Regions from separate parts of the Homo sapiens genome. Here region 2 is linked to region 1. A link means that fine-mapping ties the variant in region 1 to the expression of a gene that starts in the linked region. Tissue or cell type: blood mononuclear cells. Region 1 holds a variant in brackets; the other region holds the start of a gene. All regions are shown on one strand. Distances are between the middles of the regions. Region 1 has its middle 28 kb from the start of CBR4. Region 2 holds the start of CBR4 (carbonyl reductase 4).

The links.
Region 2: it holds the start of CBR4, and the variant in region 1 is fine-mapped to the expression of CBR4 in blood mononuclear cells (TOPMed, PIP 0.93).

What each region holds. Positions count from the first base shown.
Region 1 is chr4:168,977,563-168,987,075 of GRCh38, forward strand. It overlaps a transcript of CBR4 not described here. Among named protein-coding and RNA genes, the nearest start is that of CBR4, 28 kb to the right of the region's middle. The variant A/C (reference allele first, on the strand shown) is at 5,185.
Region 2 is chr4:169,004,600-169,014,112 of GRCh38, forward strand. CBR4 (carbonyl reductase 4) reads right to left here and starts at 5,656. Exons shown (of 5, transcript NM_032783.5): 1 at 5,349-5,656; 2 at 3,037-3,157; 3 at 2,156-2,292. The coding sequence starts at 5,490. It overlaps CBR4-DT (CBR4 divergent transcript), which reads left to right and starts at 5,830. Exons shown (of 2, transcript NR_185919.1): 1 at 5,830-5,857; 2 at 6,185-6,461. It also overlaps the pseudogene RNY4P17. RefSeq lists enhancers at 4,657-5,606, 5,706-6,035.

The sequences.
Region 1 (9,513 bases):
TTCCATTCCTTATTGCTCAAAACTTTAGTAACTGTTTCTACACAGATGATATATTTCTTGCCCGGATTTCCCCTCTGAGTTTCTGACCCATACATACTTGATGTCTCCTATCCTATCTCCAAAGCACCTGAAATCAGCATGTTTAAAATTAAACTCATGATCTCCCTGCCGAATACCAACAAACCTGCTCTTATGCAGTGTTTTTTGCGAATGGCGCCACCACTCATCCAGATTTATACATCAGAAACACATTTCCTAGATTCAGTTCATCACAAAGTATTGTTGATTTCCTAAATCTCATTTGACCACTTGTCTCCATTTCTATTCTCACTATCCTAGACTCAATTTTCCATTACCTCTCACATGAGGTAATGGGTACTACAAACATGGGTATTGCTGCACTGTTTGAGCCCCTTTCAACCTTTTCTCCATACTATAGCCAGAATCATCTTTCCTAATACATCATGTATCCTCCTACTTGAAATCTTTCAATACTTCTTAGGATAAAGTTCAAAACCCTTAACATGGCCTCCAAAGATCTGCATCATCTAGACCTACAGCCTCATCTCATACCCATGTTCTCCTCCTCTGCATTCCATGGCTGTTCAATTCCTGACTCACAATGTTCTTTGTCACCAAAAGATCTTTACCCATGCTGTTCCTTCTGAATGAAAGGCTTTACAGTCAGCCCTCTGTGTCTGTGTGATCACTTCCTTGGAGTCAACTAACTGCAGATCAAAAATATTTGGGGGAGGGGAGTGGCAAGATGGCTGACTAGAAGCAGCTAGTGTGTGCTGCTCTCACAGAAGGGAGACAGAGTGGCCAGTAAACACTAGCTCTTTAACTAAACAGTCCAAGAGGACATGTTGGGATTCATAAAGGAAGCAATGTAGTCAACATAAAACAGAAAAAAGACAGGACAGCTGCCCACCTGGGATTGGCACAGTGCCAAGTGAGGCTCCCCCCTGCAGGAAAATGGTGAATAAGAGCCCCAGGAAACCATGTTTCTGCCATGAACCTTTGCAATTTCAGGCTCTGGAGACCTCCCCTGACCCCCTTCCCCTGTGGCCTCCAGGCTGACACAGAAAGCGTGTGGAGTGTGCCACTCAGGCACAAATGGAGGGCCAAGGGTCTTGGAACCGTGAGCACTCCTGCACCAGCAGCTGTAGCTTTGCCAACAAAGGAGGCCAGGTTCTCACGCATACCCCCAGGAGAGAGGCTGCATCCACAGTACTGAGAAGCAGACGAACTACAGGCCTTGCCCCAACTACACCTCCCTAGGCAAAGCCCACTGGCCTGGGATCCCAATGCAGCCACCCCACCCCTGCCTGAGCTCTCAGGCTGGTAGCAGCTCTGCAATTCCCTGGAACAGAGCTCCCAGGAGTAAAAGACAGGCCTGCCATTTTTGCTGCTGCACAGCCCCCACCCCAACTGCTATCAGAATCAGGAGGGAGCAAAGAGGTTAGGGACTATCTTGAGCCTCCAGCACAGCATAGCATGCCTTGCAGAAAAAGAGGCCACACTATTTTCCACGCAGGTCCCTCCTCCTGTTACTCCTCCTTGGGCAGGGCCTTCAGACTTGCCCCCAACAAGCCCCCCTCCCTGCTCCCACACCCCAAGCACAGTCACCCCACCCCCACTGAGCTCTCAGCTGGTAGTAGCTCTGCACTTCCCTAGGATGGAGTTCCCAGTGGCAGCAGGCAGGCCCGCCATTTTTTGCCACTACTGCAGCCCCTGACCCTACTGCCCTCTGGCTTGGAATGGAAAGAAGAGCTTAAGGACTATCACAGGCCCCCAGCACAGCACAGCTCCTTTATAGAAAAGCAACCAGACTGTTTTCCACACAGGTCCCTGTCCATGTGCTACTCCTTACTACACAGGGCCTCCTGGACTGGGCCCCCAGCACAGCCACCCAGCCCCCGCCTGATCAGTCAGTGGCAGCTCTGTGTTTGCCTGGTGGGGAAATCCCAGAGACAACCCTCTGCCATTGCGGGGCTTCAGCGGTACGGCCCTAGCTGCCCTTGGGCTGCAGAACGAACAAAGAGCCTGGTTGCTTCACTGGTACCTCCAGCATGTCGCAGCCACCACAGGGAGAGGAACCAGTCTCTCTTCCCTATGAGCCCCCACCGCCTACTCTTCACCATGTAGGGCCTCTGGCTTTGGCCCCCAGAGCAGCTGCCCCACCCCCAGCTGAATATTCCCATTCGCAGTGGCTCTGCATTTCCCAGGGGCGGAGCTCCCACAGGCAACTGACAGCTCCTCTGCCACTGCCACTGCAATGGTACTGCCCTTGCTAACTACCCTCAGACTGGGGAAGAAAGAAAGACCCTGAGTGCCTTACTCTCACCTCCAGCATGCAGCAGCTGCCCTATGAAGAGGCTAGTCTGTCTTCCCTGTGAGCCCCCAATTCCCCTGCTCTTCACCAGGCAGGGCCCCCCCAGCTTGGGCCCACAACACACTGGGATGATTATTCTGATGGACAATGGCTATGTATATCCCTGGGGTGCAACCAAAAGAGACACATGAAAAGCCCTCTACCACTGACACTGCCAAGGTCCCCCTCTCTGCTACCCCCAAGACGGAAAGAGAACAAAAAGTCTGGCTTGCCCCAGGGCTGCAGTGCCAAGCCTGGGAGTACCAAGCTGAGGTCTGCAGCACTCAAGTGGGAGAGGAGCCCACACCCTCCTCTCCCACTTGAGAGGAGGCTCACTTGGAGCACTGAGAAGGTACATGACTGCAAATGGAAGGAAATACAAAGGAGCCACAGGGCTGAGCAAGAGCCTACCTACTGGCCAGTATGCTTAAACACATCACAGCCCAAACTTCAACACCAAAAATACTTTGCTAATATACCGCCTATGAAAACACAGACAAGAATTCAGCCACAAATAGACCAGGTGTGGTGGCTCACGCCTGTAATCCCAGCACTTTGGGAGACAGAGGCAGGCAGATCACTCAAGGTCAGGAGTTCAAGACCAGCCTGGCCACCATGGTGAAACCCTGTCTCTACTAAAAATGCAAAAATTAGCCAGGTGTGGTGGCACATGCCTGTAATCCCAGCTACTCGGGAGGCTGAGGCAGAAGAATCACTTGAACCTGGAAGATGGAGGTTGTGGTAAACTGAGATCATGCCACCACACTCCAGCCTAAGCAACAGAGCAAGACTCTATCTCAAAAAAAGAAAGAAAAAAGAATTCAACAGAGTTGGCTCTCTGAAAACATCCAGAAATGAAGGCAAGTGACTACAGTCAAGTTACACCATGATTAAAGGAACATTAGCGCCCACACAGATGAGAAACAGCCAGTGCAATAACTCTGGCAACTCTAAAAGCCAAAGAGTCTCCTTATTTACAAATGACCACACTAGCTCCCCAACACTGATTCTTAACCAGAAGGAAATGGCTGAAATGACAGACACAGAATTCAGAATCTAGATGGCAATTAAGATTATCGAGATTCAGGAGACAACTGAAACCCATTCCAAGGAATCTAAGGAATCCAGTAGAACAATTCAAAAGATAAAAATATGAAAATAGCCATTTTAAGAAAGAACCAGGCCAGGCGTGGTGGCTCGCACCTGTAATCCCAGCACTTTGGGAGGCCGAGGTGGATGGATTGCTTGAGGTCAGGAGTTCAAGACCAGCCTGGCCAACATGGTGAAACCCAGTCTCTACTAAAAATGCAAAAATTACCAGGCTTGGTGGTGCATGCCTGTAATCCCAGCTACTCGGGAGGTTGAGGCAGGAAAATTGCTTGAACCCAGGAGGCAGAGGTAGCAGTGAGCCGAGATCGCATCACTGCACTCCTAGGCAACAGAGTGAATGAGACTCAGTCTCAAAAAAATAAAATAAAAATAAAGAAAAGAAAGAACCAAACTGAGCTGATAGACCTGAAAACCTGCCTATAAGAATTTCATAACAATCAGAAGTATTAATAGCAGAACAGATCAAGCTGGGGAATGAATCTCAGAGCTCAAAGAACAGTTCTTCAAATTAACTCAGTCAGATAATAAAGAGAATTTTTTTAAATGAACAAAACCTCCAAGAAATATGGAATTATGTAAAGATGCCAAATCTATGACTCATTAGCATCCCTGAAAGAGAAGGGTAGGTCATATACAAAGGAAACTCCATCAGGCTAACAACAGAACTTTCAGCAGAAACACTACAAGCCAGAAGAGATTTGGGGCTTATATTCAGCATCCTTAAAGAAAAGAAATTCCAACCAAGAATTTCATATGCAGCCAAACTAAGCTTCATAAGTGAAGGAAAAATTAAATCCTTTTCAGACAAGCAAATGCTAAGGGCATTTGTTACCACCAGGTCTGCCTTACAAGAGGTCCATAAGACAGTACTAAATATGAAAATGAAAGACCATTACTGATCACCACAAAAACACACTCAAGTACACACTCTATTAACACTATAAAGCAAATATAATAATACAATCAAGTCTACATAACAATCAGCTAATAACATGATGACAGGATAAATTCCACACATAACAATATTAATCTTGAATGTAAACAGGTTAAATGCACCTCTTAAAAAGCACAGCATGGAAAACGGGATAAAGAAGCAAGACCCAACTGTATGCTGTCTTCAAGAGACCATCTCACATAGAAGGACACTCACATGCTCAAAGTTAAGGGATGGAAGAAATCTATCAAGCAAATGGAAAACAAAAAGGAGCAGGGGTTGCTATTCTTATTCCAGACAAAACCAACTTTAAACCAACAATGATCAAAAAGGACAAAGAAGGGCATCACATAATGATAAAAAGGTTCAATTCAACAAGACTTAACTATCCTAAATATATATATATGCAGTCAACATTGGAGCACCCAGATTCATAAAACAAGTTCATAGAGACTTACAAAGAGATGTAGATAACCATAAACTAATAGTAGGAGACTTCAACATCCCACTGAAAGTACTGGGCAGATCACTGAGGCAGAATACTAACAAAGATATTCAGGATCTAAACTTGGTACTTGACCAAATGAACCTAACAAACATCTACAGAACACTCCACTCAAAAACAACAGAATATACGTTCTTCTCATCTGCACAAGGAACATACTCTAAAACTGACTACACACTGGGCCATAAAGCAATTCTCAACAAATTCAAAAAACCAAAATCATACCAACCTCACTCTCATACCACAGCACAGTAAAAACAG[A/C]AATCAATACTGACAAGATCTCTCAAAACATACAATTAAATGGACATTAAACAATCTACTCCTGAATGACTTTTGGGTAAACAATGAAATTCAGGCAGAAATCAAGAAATTATCTGAAACTAATTAAAACAAAGATGCAACATATGAAAATCTCTGGGACACAGCTAAAGTAGTGTCAAAAGCAAAGTTCACAGCACTAAATGCCCACATACATCAAAAAGTTAGAAAGATCTCAAATTAACAACCTAACATCACACCTAGGGAACCTGAAAAACAAGAACAAACCAACTCCAAAGCTAGCGGAAGAACAGAACCAAAATCAGAGCTGAACTGAATGAAATAGATGAGAAAAACCATACAAAAGATTAACAAAACCAAAAGTTGGTTCTTTAAAAGAATAAATAAGATTGATAGACTGCTAGCTATACTAATTTTTTTAAAAAGGGACAAGATCCAAAGAAACACAATCAGAAATGACAAAGGGGACATTACCACCAACCCCATAGAAATTTTTTTTAATCCTCAGAGACCATTACAAACACCTCTATGCACATAAACTAGAAAACCTAGAAGAAATGGATAAATTCTTAAACATATTATCTCCCAAGATTGAACCAGGATGAAATTGACACCCCGAACAGACAAATAACAAACAGTGAGTAAATCAGTAATAAAAATCCTACCAGCTAGAAAAAGCCCTGGACAAGAAAGATTCACAGCTGAATTCTACGAGATGTAAAAAGAACTGGTACCAATTCTACTGAAACTATTCCAAAAAGTCAAGGAGGGACTCCTTCCTAACTCATTCTGTGAGGCAAACATCATTCTGACACCAAAACCTGGCACAGACATAATGAAAAAAAAGAAAACTTTAGGCCAGTATCTCTGATGAACATAGATGCAAAAATCCTCAACAAAATACCGGCAAAACAAATCCAGCAGCACATGAAAAAGCTAATCCACCATGATCAAGTATGCTTTATTCCTGGGATGCAAGGTTAATTCAACATAGGCAAATCAATAAATGTGATTATCACATGAACAGAACTAAAAACAAAAACTACATAATCTTCACAAGAGACAGAGAAAAGGCTTTAGGTAAAATTCAACATCTCTTCATCTTAAAAACCCTCAACAAACTAAGCATTAAAGGTACATACCTCAAAATAATAAAAGCCATCTAAACAAACCCATAACCAATATCATACTGAACAGGTAAAAGCTGGAAGCATTCCCTTTGAGAACTGCAACAAGACAAGGATGCCCACTCTCACCACTCCTATTCAACATAATATTATAAGTCCTAGCCAGAGCAATCAGGCAAGAGAAAGAAATAAAGTGCATTCAAATAGGAAGAGGGGAAGTAAAATGATCTCTCTTTACAGATGATGTAATGCTATACTAGAAAACCCTATCGTCTATGCCCAAAGGCTCCTAGATCTGATAAACATCTTCTGGAAAGTTTCAGGATACAAAATCAATGTACAAAAATCAGTAGTATTTATCTATACAAATAATATCCAAGCTGAAAGCCAAATAAAGAAGGCAATTCCATTCACAATAGCCACACAAATAAAATACTTAGCAATACAGCTAACCAGAGAGGTAAAGCAATTCTACAATGAGAATTATAACACACTGCTGAAAAAATCAGAAGCAACACAAACAAATGAAAAAAAAATATTCTATGCTCATGGATAGGAAGAATCAATATTGTTAAAATGGCCACAATGCCCAAAGCAATTTACAGATTCAATGCTATTCCTATCACACTACCAATGACATTTTTAACATAATTACAAAAAACCATTCTAAAATTCATTTGGAACCAAAAAAGAGCCAAAGAGTCATAGCAACAGCAATCCTAAGCAAAAAGAACAAAGCTGGAGGCATCACACTACTCAACTTCAAAATATACTAAAAGGCTACAGTAACTAAAACAGCATTGTACTGGCACAAAAACAGACACACAGACCAATGGAATAGGTTAGAGAATCCAGAAATAAAGCTGCACACCTAAAACTATCAAATCTTCAACAAAGTCGACAAAAACAAGCAATGGGGAAAGGACTTCCTATTCAATAAATGGTGCTGGGATAACTGGCTAGACATATGCAGAAAATTGAAACTGAACCCCTGCCTTTCACCATACACAAAAATCAACTCAGGACGCATTAAAGACTTAAATGTAAAACCTAAAGCTACAAAAACCCTAGAAGAAAACCTAAGAAATACCATTCTGGACATGGGCCCAGGTAAAAACTTGATGAAGATTCCAAAAGCAAATGCAAGAAAAACTGACAAGTGGAACATAATTAAAGAGTTTCTGCATAGCAAAAGAAACTATCAACAGAGTAAACAGACAACCTACAAAATGGGAGAATATATTTGCAAACTATGCATCCAACAAAGGTCTAACATCCAGAATCTATCAGGAACTCAAATGAACAAGCAAAAAATGACAACATTAAAAAATGGGCAAGGATGTGAACAGACATTTCTCAAAAGAAGACATACGTGCAGCCAACAAGCATACGAAAAAATGCTCACTATCACTAAACACTAAGGAAATGCAAATCAAAACCAACATGAGATACCATCTCACGCCACTCAGATTGGCTATTATTAAAAAAGCTAAAAAACAACAGATGCTGGTGGTTGTGGAGAAAAGAGAACGTTTATACACTGCTGGTGGAATATAAATTAGTTCAGCCACTGTGGAAAACAGTCTGGAGATTTCTCAAAGAACTTAAAATGGAACTACCATTTGATTCAGCAATCCCATTACTGCATATATTCCCAAAGGAATATAAATTATTCTACCATGAAGACTCATGCCCTCATTGCGGCACTGTTCACAACAGCAAAGACATGGAACCAACCTAGATCCCCATCAATAGTGGACTGGATAAAGAAAATGTGGTACATATGCACCATGGAATACAACACAGCTACAAAAAAAAATTAGATTATGAGATCATGACCTTTGCAGCAACATGAATGGAGCTGGAGGCCATTATCCTAAGTATCCTAATACCACATGCAAAAATGTGGCATTTGGTTTTCTGTTCCTGCATTAATTCATTTAGAATAAGTGGGAGCTAAACCCTGAGTATACATGGACACAAAAAAGGGAACAATACACACTGGGGCCTACTTGAAAGTGGAGGGTGGGAGGATGGAGAAGATTGAAAAACTACCTATCAGGTATTATGCTGATGACCTGGGTGACAAAATTATCTGTACACCAAACCCCTGTGACATGTAATTTACCCATATAACAAACCTACATATGTACCCCCTAAATCTAAAATAAAGTTGGAAAGGAAAAAAAAGAAAATATCCGGGGGGGGAACAATAAAAATAAGAACAATTAAAAATAATGCAAATAAAAAACAATATAACAGCTATTTTCATTGCATTAGATATTGTAAGTAATCTAGAGATGATGTAAAGTATATGGGAGGATATGCATAAGCTATATGCAAATACTACACCATTTTATGTAAGGGACTTGAGCATCCACAGATTTTGGTATTCTCAGAGGATCCTGGAACCAATCCCCAAAGATACTGAGGGCCAACTGTACTCTAACTTTAGTTCAACAATCCTTGCCTCAGAGAAGCCATTCCTGACCTTCTAGAATAGGTCAAATTCCCCTAATTATTTAATAGCAATAAGAGCTTCTCATTTTTATAATGCATATTTTGGTTGCAATTTTATATGTGTGTGATTAAGTCTGCTTGACCCCACCATACTGTATTACTCTGTGAGCTCCAGAAACTTCGAGTTCGGTTTTTTGTTGTTTTTTTGTCACCATTCTACCTCCTATTACTAGCAGTGTTACATATGTAGTATGAATAAATAAATATTTCGTGAATGAATGAACAATCTGAATACTTAAGAATTTTTCCTGGCCGGGCATGGTGGCTCACGCCTGTAATCCAGCACTTTCAGAGGCCAAGGCAGGAGGACCACTTGAGGCCAGGAGTTCAAGACCAGCCTGGGTGACACAGTGAGACCTTGTCTCTACAAAAAAATATAAAAAATTAGTCACGCAGGGTTAATACCTGTTGTCTCAGCCACTTGGGAGGCTAAGGCAGGAAAATCATTGGAGCCCAGGAGTTGGAGATGGCAGTGAGCTGTGATCATGCCACTGCACTCCAGCCGAGGCAACACAGCAAAACCCTATCTCAAAATAAATTAATTTAATTAAATAAATAAATAAGTGTCTTAAATGTATCTCCACATTTCCCTCACCCTGCCTACCACTTATTCAAATTTCCAGGGAGGGGGTCTCCTGATGTATGTTTCAAATTTATTTTTAAA
Region 2 (9,513 bases), 27 kb after region 1:
AGAAGCAACTCCTCACCCATTTGTTTTATCATGAGATTGCAGCAATTCAATTTGTGTGACTTACATTCTTGACATATTCGCTTTATTCCGGTGGAGCAGAACCAAAGCTACAATATCTGCGAGACATGCTTGTACTGTCAATCTAAATTGGCAAAGCTTCAATTATACACTTTTTGTAAAAGTGCAATTTCATTACATTCAGTGATATATTGTAAACTGTACTGCCTACTGAAGATTCTTGAGTGACCACATCTAATGAATATGTAATAATAATTTTTAATTCAAATATCAACTATATGCAAATAAACTCTTGCAAAACAGAAGTGGGGAAGTAATTTTCTGCACCACTGACCTGTACTTATGATACAAAAATTAATCAAGGACCTCACAAAATTTTTTTAAAGTAATTTTAAAAAAAGAAAACATTCCAAACATTTCTCTATTAGAATCAACAAGTTCAGTATTAGAATATTTATCTACATTATATATTGTAGGCCAATTAATAACAAAGGAAGAGAACTGTGAAGTACACAGAGAGAACAGACATCAGACTGAAGAAATGCATATGGATAGAGGGGTGTTTATCAGAAAGAAAAATACAGAGACACAAAAAAAGAAAAATACATGCACGAAAAAAATACCAAAACAGGGCTGGTCCGATGGTAGCGGGTTATCAGAACCTATTAACAGTAGTGTCACTAAAGTTAGTATACAACCCCCAACTGCTAAATATGAGTGGCTTTTAAAAGAAAAAAAAACACAAGCTGCTTTAGCAGCTTTGATTCGTGCCACGCACTACTGTTCATCAGGTCAAAAAGTGGTAATTTCTGAAATACCAATGAAGTGTCTGGCAGTTTAAAGTAGTCCTTCCTGTAGTAAGATTCTCAATTTACTATCTATTATTTACTTTTAGCTCAATTCTAAAAGTTTTGCATGCATAAGGAGGACTAATGGGTTTTTTAAATACACCTAAAAAAAAGAAGATTTTAGAGTTAAACAAATATACCTCAGGTTATCAGGTGACAGATACAGGCCTGTTTGCCTGCTTGTAAGTATCCAAAGTCCTTATCTGGCTGTGTTAAAAGGCAAAGGTTGACTCATTGACTAATCTCTTACATAAGAAAACGGATCCCTTAAATTTTTAAGAGTAAATGTCCAAAATGCTCTCATGTCCCCTTAGTTTATTAGCATAGTATTCTTTCCTTTTCTCACTTTCAAAACAGAAAAACTCTAAATTCTGGCTTGAAAAACCATTTCCTACATTTAAAAGAACAGGGTCACTTACTTTTATGGAGCAGCATCTCCCTTCTGTGGCCTTTTAAGGTATTACCATTTGAAAATAAAAAGCAGATGGTATACTATTATTTCCAAATTACCAAACTGAAATAAAATTTCAAGTCATTTTGCATTTTAAGTTCTACAGGCATATACTCCACAGCTTATCTGCCCTGTGGGTTAGATGAACTGAAAACTAGGGGTTACTTACATCCATTCTTAAAAACAGAGAAATTTTATCTTCCTTTAAACCTCTACACAAGATTTAACAGTAACCCATGAAACTGCTGTAGACAATATTATTTAGCCACCACTGTCTACTTTAATTCCTTGTCCATGTTTTAAAAATCAGGTTCCTGGCTGGGCACGTGGCTCACCTCTATAATCCCAGCACTTCGGGAGGATCACTTGAGCCCATGAGTTAAAGACCAGCCTAGGCCACATAGTGTGACCTCGTCTCTATTTAAAAAAAAAAAAATTCACATAAAAATCAGAATGATCCAATTTCTCTTGAAAAATCAAAATTGCTGGCAAAACTGGGACCACATTCTTGCACGGCAACAATCTACTGAATCTAAGTGGTGGCCTCCACCATTCCATATGGGCTCTGGACAATGAAGCTGGATATCATTTATCACATGGCTGGTACTGTCATTTTTCTAGTACTCAGTGGTGTCACTCATTTAACACCTGCCTGACTCCTATAGGGATGTGAATGTGTGATTCTTATTTTACTCATTAATCAATTAATTAAATCCTTTTTTCCACAGATAATATAAATTTCATTCATGTTTCACAATAAATCACAAATTCGTGGATTAAATATTTTTATGGTATGGTATTATGGGATAATCATAAATTCACAAAGGTGAAGACTCACCTACATTAACAATAGACCCTCCCTGTTGTTGAATCATAGTCCTCATGGCAGCTTTACAGGTCAGCATGGAACCCAAGAGGTTAGTATGAAGCTGAGATACCATATCTTCAGTTTTTGTTCTTACTAAAAGACCATCCCTACAAAAAGAAACAGCATATAATAGCATATAATAACAAGATAAAAACCAAAAAGGTCAAGACTAATGTAACATTTTTACTGAGAGTGCAAGAAGTGCTTCCTATCTGAGCTAGAATAGCTAGAATACCTAGAGTCCCATTTTGAACTTGGCTTGAGAAACATTAAAATAACAATTGATAAACCAGAAAGGATCCACTTGGAAGACAGGTTGCTACCCCTTCTCAGCTTGAGTGGCAAATATTCTTAACCCCTAAAAAGTAGTAACATATAGCCAAAATAGTTTGAATGGCCTGAGCAACTGCCATACTAAGCCTTGTTTAGCAAGAAAATTAATATGTTATCTAAATATTCTCTCCTAAATTCATCTTTTAAAAAATAATATCCACTCCATGATTCTATTAGTATTAAGTTCACAAACTGGCAAAACTTATCTGTGGTGACAAAACTCAGAAAACAGTTACCAACAAGGAAGTATTGAGAAGACACTACCTTCTGGAGCACTGGAAACATTCTACGGCTCAATATGGGTGATGATTACAATGTTAAAATCGACTCAACTGGACATTTATTATATGTTGTATCTCAATATAAAGGAAAATAATTTATGGATTGACAAGTTTTAAAATAGTTTTTTCTCCCAGTTAGAAGCAAAATAAACATATTAACTTATACCAATCAAAGACATATTAGGAATAAAAGTTTTAAATATATATATAAGAAACTTATTTAAATCTGTGACCAACCTGTTAATACCAGCTGCATTTACCAAGAAATTTACTCGACCTAAATGTTTCTCCAGCTCTTCAAATGTATTTTGAACATCATGTTCTTTAGCAACATCACAGCTAAATGCCAAATGATCTCCTACACAACAAAGTTAAATAAGAATTACTTATAACTCAAATTTTAAATTTACTCAATACACATTTGTTAAGCATCTATCTAAGATGGCAGGCCTGTGCTAATCTAGAACCTAAAGATTAAAAAAGTAATGTCATGAGGCCTGGCTTTCATAGAGTTGGTCTAATGAAACTGGGATGCGGGAACAAAGAGGAAATAAAGTACTACTACAGAAAGTTAATTTTAAAATTTTCTTTTTAATCAACAAAGGGGGGAGGGCTTTTTCAAGTTATAAAGGCTCTGTAAGATTCATCTAATATTTATAGCTTTAACACTGAATTCATGCTACCCAATTCGACAGTCTTCTGGGTTTTATATTCCTTTTTTGAAATTTATGTCTAATTCTGTCAGGTTTTTGTTGAATTAGTTTCTTTGGCCCTGAACGGGAACTCTTGGGTTTCTTCTTTTTAAGTGCTACGGATGCACTATGGCACATATATTATAACGACTATTATTCAAACCTGACCATCAGGAGAGATGAGACAACACAGGAAGCTATAAAAATGCTAAAACTACAAACCACGGGGGGAAAAAAACACTTTTTACTAAAAGCAACTGTTACTTACCACTTTTAAAAAATGGTTAAATGCCAAAAAAAAACTACACTTCAAAGGAAAACAAAGCATTCCCTATGTAATCTACCATTTTAATACTCTAAAATGTAGGATTGTTTTTAAAAGCTAAAACAATTCTTTATTTTCTGTCTGACCTTGATAAATATGCTTACACCAACACTACCCCATCAAGCCTTTGGAAACAGTAAGCGACCCGGGGAATTATACTTTCTAGATGAAAACCAATCACTCATGGAACACGATTCAAAGGAATGCAGGGCCCAAAAGCATCCTGTGTCTCTCTTACTCTTGGTTTTCACCCGAAGACTTGTGTCCACAACCACCTTTGAAAGCCCAACTAATGGCTTCAATCCAGTCCAGCAAACACTGATGGCTTGGGGTGACACAGTAAGGGTCACCACTCTTCCCCTCCTTTGTTAGAATGGTAAGGAATATGAGCTTCAAGAAGCATTCACTGACACTCTCCCTGACCTATAACTTACAGAATCTTTTTTCTTTTAGAGAGCCCAATAGTCTCCCAACCAGCACTGAACAGGTGATACCAAACCGATCAATAATGTTAACTTAAAAATGAACAGCCACACCTGGCGTCTATAGTCCCAGGTCCTTGGGAGACTGAGGCGAGAAGATCTCTAGAGCCAGTAAATCAGGAGTTGGGGTCCAGCACGGGCAACATAATGGGAAGCCCTCTCAAAAAAAAAAAAAAAAAACCAGATACACAAAAACAGTAAGAGCCACAAGACGCACCCCTAGGCCTCTATTCTCCCCATGCCTCCCTGATAGTAAATGAAGTATAATTTTGTCCATTCTGGTGATTAAACAAATAGCATCTTCGGATCTAACGTCCTATTTCTCCCTAAACTCAATGAAGAGTTATATTCACAAAATGACTAATCCATTCATAATAAGCCGGAAATAAAAAACCCTGAAGTTTAAATGCAATAAAAAAGAATTTGGCAGAACAAAGTTCAATTGTCCATTTGCAAAACTCACCAAAACAATTTAATAACATTAAAGCAAACCAGGTATATCTCAAAACTGGCTGGTACTCAAAAGGGTTTCTCTATCAAACACTGCTTTGTGCATTCGCGCAGGGCCAAGGCACGGCCCTTGGGCAAAACTGAAGGGAGCCGTTGGTACCTGCACTCCCACCTTTCCTGCCTGAACTCCTTTCGACCCAGCCCTGTCTCCGGGGGCCGAGAACTCGCCCTTTTCCCTACATTAAAAGTAAACTGTTACGTGGCTCTCTCCCACAACAGGGAAGCTCCTCAGCGTTAGCACTAGCCGCAGGGCGGAGGGTGCGTATAGCGGGGCCTCAAAAGACTACGAGGTCTCAAAGAACACCCCAAGTGTTCAGCCCTCGGCGGCAAGCTGCGTGGCCGGCATTCTGCGAGGCATAGGGAGATCGCGGGTTTCTGCACGAGACGCATTCTACCCTTGGAACGGGAGAGCGCCTGCACGCGGCTACATCGAGTAACCCTAGAGCCCTAAAGGCCAGACCCGCTCTTTTTACAAAGGAGATTTTCTTTAGGCGCCTGGACCGCGGCCATACAACTGGACAACTCCAGTTTGGTACCTACCGCCGAGGTCACCGGCGGCGGCTTTGGCCCCTTCCAGGTTTCTGGCAATGACCGCCAGTCGGTAGCCTTTCCGGGCCATTAACTGGGCCACAGCTCTGCCAATGCCTCGGGAGCCTCCAAAAACAGCACACACTTTGTCCATCTCGGAGTCACAAACTCGGAGGAAAGAGGGTAGGGAGTGGGAGCCCCTCTCCAGGTTCCCTCAGGCTTTTAAACAACCGCGGTTCCAAAAAAAAAAAAAAGAAAAAAAAAGGCAAACCGCAAAAAAAAATAACGCCGCTCGACACCTCCTGCAGCCGCACAATAGTAATGCAAGACGCCGTGAAAAGGAGGAAGAGCTCGACGTCGCCGCGTCGACGTCATCACGCACGGACTCTTCCGCGCCACACCTAACAAATACGCCGACGAGAGCTCCCCGCCGGCGGAAGAATGGCCTGGAGAGGGCCTCGATGCTTGCTGGGACCTGTAGTCTTGACGCATGAGAGCAACTGGCGCAGGCGCGCTGCTCGGTGGGGAATGTACTTGTGGCACTGAGGGGGATCCTCTGTCCCCGCTGGGTCATATCAGTCGGGATTCGAGCCCCGGTGACCAATCGACCCGGTTTGTTCGGAACTGACAGGGTTGTCAAGACGCTGGGCTTTCCCTGGCAAACCAAGACGACCTGATCACGTAGTTAGAACCCAGAGAAAGCATTACTGGGCGTGAGCCGGTCGGGGCTCCGGTATTTGCCCTTCGCCCAGGTGTTGTTTTGGCTACAGACTTGATGTCCTACCTGTTGAAGAAGTCCCCAAGAATCGCACCCACACCAAAACCTACCCTACCTGTTCCTCCCCCAGGTTGCTGTAGAAATGGACCTCTACCCGCCCAGATGTTACCATTCATCGCGAAGGGTGTCGTGAAGATGAATGCCCTGTCGAACATCATCCAGCAGGAGGTCAAGGAATTTTAACTGAATGATTGAATAGTCTTGCAAGATCTATGAAACAAGCTTCGGCTGCTGTAGAGAAACAAAAATGGGTTCCTGCAATTCTAAATAAGATGTACTGGGTGCTCTGAGAGTTAATAAGCTAAAAAATTCAATGTTTGTTACAATTATAGTGTAAACAGAAAGCATTTCTGATACAATATTATTTTACTAGATTCAGAAAAGTATGAGCCATGGTCCCTACCACTAAAAAAACTACAACCCAGAACTACAGGACTAATACACATGAAACACTAGGAGGTATCCAAAATCATACTTAGTAAAATGCAAAATTATATTAACACAAGAGCTCCGAGAAAATGGAGATCAGTGAAGAATGAAGGGGTGCATGGAAAAGCTGGATTTGAGGGCTGGATGAGGTTTGAAAAAAGGAAAACAAGAGCAAAAAGTCTATAAATAAGCAAGTTGAGCATTAATTTAAATTTGTTATTCCTATTCCATTTAGATCCAAAAAAAGATTTGAAATGGTTTGCAAAAATACATGAGTATTTGAATTTAAAAGGCAAAGAGGACCACTGCCCCTTCTCCCACAAGGCCAGAACAATAAATTAGGTCAGTGGAAAAAATACGAATAAAGTCATGCTATAAGAATCTATTTAGTATTAAAGAAGAGATTCATAAACTTAGAGTTTCCTGCCAGCGAAAGCAACAAAGGAAATATAATTACAAGTGGTAATTTCTGTAAGAAATCAGCCTCCTGGTTATGCAGCAGAGAAGCCTGAGCAAAACTCCCTCCTCATAGGTCCTCCTAAATGGCACACTAAGCATTGTAGTAGACAGTGAGCTTCATGAAAAGAAAAAGAGATTGTAAGGCTGTTTTCATAGCATCTATTAGACTTTATTAAAAGCAAATACAATAGGAAGTTAAACAATATAAGCAAACAGTCACACATAAAAATTGTGTCTTTGAAACAATATATGTTTGAAACAATGAGGAAACAAGCCTGAGGAAATTTGGGATGGTGCTATATTATAGTCAGCTTTAAAGTCAGGTGCCAAGCATTAAACAGGCCTTTAACTGCAGAAGTAATAAGATAAGAGCTGCATTTAAGAACTATTAGCAGGCCAGGCGTGGTGGCTCATGCCTGTAATCCCAGCACTTTGGGAGGCTGAGACAGGAGGATTGCTTGAGTCTAGAAGTTCAAAACCAACCCAGGAAACACAGCAAGACCCCCACCCCCCCGACCCCCATCTCTACAGAAAATACAAAAAAAAATTAGCTGGACATGGTGGCCTACCTGTGGTCCCAGCTACTCGGGAGGCTGAGTTGGGAGGATCATGTAAGTCCAGGAGGTCAAGGCTGCAGTGAGCCATGATTGCACCACTGCAGTCCAGCCTGCATGACACAGCAGGACCCTGTCTCAAAATAACAGTGTTCTAAAAAACAAACAAACAGTTTCCCAGTGATGTAAAAATGGGTCAGATCAAATTTGTCTATTCACTTTCCTACTATACACTATGCAATCTTGGAAAGAAAAAACTGTTTTACATAAATTACCAATATAAGGGTCAGCCTAAATGCCAACTGTATTCCTGCACCTTAGGTCAAACCAGAGAGGTTTATCTTTTGAACAGTTCTCTCCATTTGCTAGGAAAATGATTATTTTTTTTTCTACACATTGTTATTTTAGCAAAAAAAAATGGTTTTTAGATCTATGCCATCTATCATGAAGATCACTAACACATGATATGAGGTGACATTCAGAATTCTGAAAACCTTCCAACTTTTCTCACTGTATATATACTGTAAATGGATAAGCTGGGCTTTTTATTCAACACATACCTCAGGTTAAACCTCAAGGTTATTATTTATTTTTTTTCCCTCTTAATACAATATCACCACTATCCCGGGTGAGAATACATCTATCACAGCACATCACCCATTAGCTGAGAAGGTTACAGCAGGGGAAGTTTCTCTGTAAGCCCCTGATAGTGAAGTGAGGATCTGTAAATTAAACTGGGTCTCCCCTACCCAGCAGGACATTGAAGGAAGCCATTAGAATGACCCACCTTTAGTCTTTCCTTCTCACTAAACATGCCACTTTTGTGGTAATATTTTAACCATATGTTATACTTTAACTTAAATCCACATAGGATATATTTTCTCTTGGCTCCCACAATCGAAGGAGAAAATTCCTTATGTATAAGGACTGTTATACAAATTTTTAAATATGCATACCTAGTATTACTTTTCTGATTACAAAAGGAATACCATTTAATTGCTAACAGTTAGAAAACATAAACTTTTTAAAGTAAATAAAAACTCATTGAAAGCATTGTACACTTTAAGCGTGTGAATTGTATCGTATGCAAATTATATCCCAATGGAACTGTTATTGAAAAAGATGTAATTTAAAGCCTACTGCCCTGTTATACGAAATTTGAATCTGCAACTAATTATAAGGGGGTTGTACCTTTCATGAATATTTTTTTCATACGTCAAGATTTATAATGCCCAAGATTCCAAATATGCAGGAAAATTTATTTATAAGAAATTTATGAATTATGATTGAATATTCATTGAGAATCCTCTTTACAAATGCACCATACTAAGCACATCCAGCTTATCAGATCCATAATTGAAGCATAACCCTTCCTGCCAGCAAGCAGTCTCCCAGGATTCTTCAGGCAGTGATGATAATCTGCACGACCCAAATTGCATGTGGCCAGCTAACTTCTCCATACAGACCATGCTCTTCTTTCAAGAAGAAAGATTAGAAAGCTGCCTTAGTGTGGCTGCACAGATATAACTTTTATGATTAAAAAGCATGTTGATTTCCTCATTGGCATTCTTGTATCCAATCTGCTGGGTAATCTAAATTGTAAGGAATGTACTTTTTATCACTTACAAAAGTTTATTTCATTTTGATTGGGAACAAAAAATGTGGCCCATGAGCTTGTTATTTTGTTGAATTGGCGTTTATGCCTCTGAGGCTGCCCACCGAGACCTAAACCTGGCACTCAGTTGCCTAAGGCAGAAGCATGGAGTTTATTCCTTCCCTCTCTCAACATCCCACATCCAATCAGTCACAAAGTCCTGCTGATTCTACTCCCTAAATACCATTCCAACTTCTACACATCCATGCTTCTCCAAACACTGTCTTCTCAACCTCGAATGCTCCCACTGCTTTCCCTGGTAACATCTGATTTATCATTCAAAATGTGGCTCAAACATCTCTT